Regions from separate parts of the Homo sapiens genome. Here region 2 is linked to region 1. The links come from fine-mapping of genetic effects on gene expression. A gene starts in region 1. The other region holds a variant in brackets. All regions are shown on one strand. Distances are between the middles of the regions. Region 1 holds the start of COL5A2 (collagen type V alpha 2 chain). Region 2 has its middle 42 kb from the start of WDR75.

Region 1 (2,924 bases):
GAATATTTATCCAGAGTCTAGTTCCAAAGCTAAAATGCAAAGGTTCTTGGATTTCTTCTATTAAGAACAGTAATAATGTCTTGCTTGCCTAATCTCATTTGATAATTTCTCCTTTCTCCGGGCTTAATGCATCCCTCACATATTTATATGCTCTGGCTTATATATCTTTATTTCTTGTAAATTTAGTTTCTCAACACCTACATATGTTCCTTGAAGGTGATGGGTATGTCTTTTATTTCTTTTATGTCATCCTTTCTGCCCAGTGCTTAGCACAGTGCAAGGCACCTGTTGCCCAATAATTATAAACAATTGACTCACTTGTATTGTATAGAACATCCATCCTGATTCTAGGGAGACTCAAGGTGGCAAATACATTAGATTGTATAGAACTCTCTGAGGTCATTAAGATCTTGGCAAGTGTGAGGGTGGCACAAAAGTTCATCGATAATTTTCCTTAAAATGCATGTTCAACTGGGGCTATCATATTCCCTGCAAAGCTGGCTTAAAGCTAATAATACCACCATCTGCTTTTATGTAGCTCTTTGCAATTTGGAGCTTCATTAATAATACATTACTCATTTTAGTGTCACTAAACCCTGTACACTGGTCAGGGTAAAGCCCTTTTCTCAAATGAGAAAATTGGAGTGCACAGAGATAAAGGACTATATGCACATTTACAAAATTATTGAGTGGCAGAACCACTCACAAAAGGCAGAAGCAAGCCTTTTTTCATCCAAAGGTAGAGTACTTCCCATTCCTCTGCACTGCTTAGTAGACTATTTTTCAACATGGTAAAACTCTCTGGGACAAGAGGAACCTGAAGATGTGGCCCCTTAACAAGAGATGTGGAGAAATTAGGAAAGGACATGCTTTCTTAATTCAAATTACAATGTATCACAAATTCATTTATCCAAAATGGTTTTCTAACCTGGACTTTACCTGGGCAACATTCTAATAATCTCCTTCCAGAGTATGGGAAAAGAAACCGAATCTGAGAAGGGGATAAGAATACTCCCTATTCAGTCAAAAGAAAGGGTTAAAATGTGATTGTTTAAAGATTTAAGGTGGAGAAGAGAGTCTTGAATTATCTAAATGTAAAAAAACTAGGGTAAAAGGCTGGATTTCCTTCGGAATGTCTTTTTCAGCTTATAGGGGAAAAGTTAAAGGGTGTGTGTCTGGGGGGAAGGGTTAGGGAGGGGAAAATAGAACCCTTTTCTTCTAACAGCCTTTCTTAAAAAATAAAAGAAAAGAGAAACAAATGTTTGTTTCTGTTATTAAGCCCCATCTATGCTTAAAAGTTAAATGAAATAGGGAAAGTTCAGGCACAGAGACGCGTGTTCTGATTTGGTTGTTTACCATCAATCAGACCGTTGCTTGGCAGACACTGGATGGTTATGAGCCTGAACAAGCTGAAAAGGGGCAGGAAAAGAAGTGGAGGCAGCATTCTTCCTATTTAAAGCTGCATCGCTTGAAAAAAGTTTTCGCAGACTGTGCTGGAGCTGGTGCTGAAAAAGGGGGTTTGCAGAGGCTGCCCTGGGGCTGGTGCTGAAAGAAGAGCCCACAGCTGACTTCATGGTGCTACAATAACCTCAGAATCTACTTTTCACTCTCAGGAGAACCCACATGTCTAATATTTAGACATGATGGCAAACTGGGCGGAAGCAAGACCTCTCCTCATTCTTATTGTTTTATTAGGGCAATTTGTCTCAATAAAAGCCCAGGAAGAAGACGAGGATGGTGAGTTTGCCATTTGCTTTGCTTGTAGTGTTTATTGCACGGTTTGGGAAATAGGTGGAATGTTAAGCCTCAGGAAGAGCGTGAAGAGGAGGTTCTGGTTTGAAGTTTGAGAAGGGGGCTGACGGATTTGCACCTGGAAAACGACTTGAAAGACAATTGGGATGTTTGTAAATCCGGAGCTTCTAGATCCACCGTTGGAGAGAGTACACTACTAAATTTTTCTGGGAAAGCCTACAATAAGTCCTTTTGGCTGAGTGTGAGAGTGGGACGTTTAAAATAAGAAAAGAGTGAATGCTTAAAACGGAGCACTAAAGGCATTTTAGTTAGAGGAGCTCTGTTCTGTGGGCTGGAGTTTTCAGAGCAAGGAAAAGTCGCGGCAGAAGCTGGGTAGGGTGGAGTCTTTTTGTACTGAACTTCAGCTGCTTCATAAAATTCTTTGTTTAGTAAAACCTCTGCAGCAACTCTGATAGCTTTGATTTTTCTTTGTCTTTGGCTCCTCATTCTTTCCTCTTTAACAATTTAAACTTCTTTTTACCATTTTCATTTGTGAAAATGTGATCACTTTTGCTTACTGGGAGGCAGTCTCGTTTGTTTCTCCATGACAGAGGCTGATAGAAGCCAGATTTCTTAAACAGTGGTATTTTCCCACCCTACTGGCTTGATTAACAGGACAGTGGTGGTTCCCGGTTGGATGGCGGAAGGCAGGAAATCAGCATGTCTTGTATATATCTTATTTGGCATGGAATATTTGCATGGACATTACCCCTTAGACCCAAGCTTTTTTTTTTTTTTTTTTTTAAAGATAAATCTTGCCTGGTGACCACATTTTTTTCCTATGCAATTTTCATATGTTACAGTTGGGTTATATGGTATGGTTAAGCAAAAATGCATAGCTGTTGTAGTATATAAGAAAATATTTAAATTGATTCCTCTATTAAATCTTTAATCTTGAGGGTTGCAATTTCAAATACAGACATGTACTCCTTTAAAATAAGCCACTGTAGATTTTCATCAACTCAACCATGTAACATCAAACTCAAGCTTTTAAAACTTTGGACATTCATTAACCTTTTCTATTACTTTCATATATAGACACATACATACAGGTATATATGTATATATACTATGTATATATCTATATTTTTAGAACAAATATCTGCTTCTGTGTGTTTTTGGTTTCAAAAAGT
Region 2 (2,924 bases), 220 kb before region 1:
AACATGGACTTTATAATAACTCTAATTAGTCGTCAAGGAGGAACTAGCAATTGCAAAAAAATATCCTGTAAAAATTCTAGAAGTCAAAGTAAATAACTGAAAAAAGTTAATGGGTAGCTTAATGGAATATTTGGTATGGCTAAAGAGAAAGTAATTTGGCATGTAGAGAATAAGGAAGTGTTTATATAGAATAAAAGAAACATGTAGAAAAGAATATAAGAAATATGTGAGACAAAGGTCTGACATATGTGTAGTTGAAGTTCCAGAAGAAGAAAGAGAATAGCGCAGAAGCAATGTTTGAGAATATAATGGCTGAGCAATTTCTAAACTAATTAGAGAATTCAAGCCACATATTGGAGAAGTGCAAAGGACTCAGAGCAGGATAAGTATCAAGAAAAACATATGTAGGCAAATAATAATAAAACTGCTGAAACCCATAGCAAAAAACCAAACCAATCAACAAACAAAAAAGAAAAACATAAAATTAGATCAAATAAAGAGATGTATTACTGTCAAATAGGCCACAATAAATCTGATAGTTGACTTTTTAACTATGGAAGGGCAGGTGTGGTGGCTCACACCTGTAATTTCAGCACTTTCAGAGGCCAAGGCAGGAGTATTGCTTGAGCCCAGGAGTTTGGGAATAGCCTGGGCAACATAATGGGACCCTGTCTCTACAAAAAAATACAAAAATTAGCCAGACATGGTGGCATGTATCTCTAGTCTTAGCTATTCCAGAGGCTGAGGCAGGAAGCTCTCTTGAGCCAGGGAGATTGAGGCTACAGTGAGCCATGATCACACTGCTGCACTCCAGCCTGGGCAGCAGAGTGAGACCCTGTTTCAAACAGATAACCAACCAACCAAAACCAAACCAAAACAACAACAACAAAAACAATGGAAGGCAGAAGACATTGAAACTATAACTCAAAGTTCTAAAAAGTATTATATGTAATATATAAATCAGCCACAAAATTCTATTCTAAAAAATATATCCTTCAAAAACGAATGTAGGCAGGGTGCAGTGGCTCACGCCTGTAATTCCAGCACTTTGGGAGGCTGAGCTGGGTGGATCATCTGAGGTCAGAGTTTGAGACCAGCCTGGCCAACATGGTGAGCTCCTGTCTCTACTAAAAATACTAAAATTAGCTGGGTGTGGTGGCAGGCACCTGTAATCCCATCTACTTGGGAGGCTGAGGCAGAAGAATCATTTGAACCTGGGAGGTGGAGGTTGAAGTGAGCTGAGATCACACCACTGCATTCCAGCCTGGGTGACAGAGCAAGATTCCATCTCAAAAAAAAAAAAAAAATC[G/A]TAAAATAAATATTTTAAGATAAACAAAGACTGAAAGAATTTATCTTCAGGAGATCTGTACTACAAGAACCACTAATGAAGTACTTCACACAGAAGGAAAATAATCCCTATTGAAAGCATAAAAATGCAGAAAGAAATAAAAAGCTATAAGAGTAAACATATGGATGTATCCAAATGAATATTGATTGTATTAACCAATGCTAACTATATGCTGCTGGTTTAAAAGTATATAACAAAACAGCACAAAGTATGAGAGAGAATTTATGGAATTCAATTATTCTATGGTTCTATTGTCTAAGAAATGGTAAAAATACTATTAGACTTAAAAAAATTAAGATTGCTTATTGTAATCATAGAATAACCTCTAGTAGTAAAAAGAATGTGTAACTAACTAGTGAATAGAGAGGAATAAAGATAACAGCAACCACACAATCCAAAATAATGCAAGAAAAAGAAAACAATAGTATAGATGATTTAACTCAGATCAATCATTACATTAAATGTGAGCAGATGAATGACACCAATTAAATGACAAAGATAGTAAGACTGGATGCAAAGATAAATATTTTGCTCTGCTACTCAGAGGTTAAATATAAGCACAGTGAAAGGTCGAATGAAAAAGGATTGAAGAAGATATGTCATGCAAACAGCAACCAGAAGAAAGCTGATATAATGAAATTAACATCAGAAAAACTGGACTACAAGACAAAAAAGCATTATAGGTGATAAAGAGAGATAAGTAATAATGGTAAAAGTTTCAATCTTTAAGGAAGATATAATAATTTCCATATTATATGTATCAAATGGAATAGCTTCAGAATATATAAAGCAAGCATTGACAGTACTAAATGGACAAAACAACAATTAAAGTGGAAGACTTTAACATAACATTTCTAAGTAACAGATTGAGCAGAGAGAAGAATATGGAAGATTTGAGCAATAGCAAACATTATCTAACATATAAATATGTATTTACACATGGAAGACTGCACTCAGCAACTGAAGAAAACTTATATAAAACATTTTCCATAGCTTGGCCGGCTCAACACATTTTATCAGATAGAAAAGCAGATGAACATCAGATTGAATATCAGCATGTATTCAGTGAGCACAATTGGATTATTACTAGAAATTAATGAAAAAAATGTCAACTAGAAAATTTCTAAGTGATTGGAAATTGAGCAGTTCTATCATGAATAATCCATGGGTTAAAAGAAGCATTACCACAGACATTAGAAAACATTTTGAACTGAATGCTGATAAAAATATGACATATTAAAATTTGTGGAATGCATATAAAGCCCTGTTTAGAGATAAACTTTTGAATAAATTTATTATAGAAGAAAGCTAAAAATCAACAATTCATCTTTATAAGATAGGAAAAGAACAGAATATTAAACTAAAAAAGTGGAAAGAAGAAAATAATGAGGATAAGAATAGAAATTAATAAAATAGAAAACAAGTTTATAAGAAATTTTAAAAAGCCAAAATTTAATTTTATAGAAGAGTAATAAGTTTGATAAATCTTTGGTGTTATTAATAAAAGACAAGAGAAAGAAGACACAAATGTTTAATATTGAAATGAAAAAGGAGACATCATCACAGATTGTACAGA

The links.
Region 2: its variant is fine-mapped to the expression of COL5A2 in whole blood (TOPMed, PIP above 0.99).

The regions. Positions count from the first base shown.
Region 1 is chr2:189,178,321-189,181,244 of GRCh38, reverse strand. It overlaps COL5A2 (collagen type V alpha 2 chain), which reads left to right and starts at 1,484. Exons shown (of 54, transcript NM_000393.5): 1 at 1,484-1,737. The coding sequence starts at 1,641.
Region 2 is chr2:189,397,636-189,400,559 of GRCh38, reverse strand. It overlaps a transcript of COL5A2 not described here. Among named protein-coding and RNA genes, the nearest start is that of WDR75, 42 kb to the left of the region's middle. The variant G/A (reference allele first, on the strand shown) is at 1,310.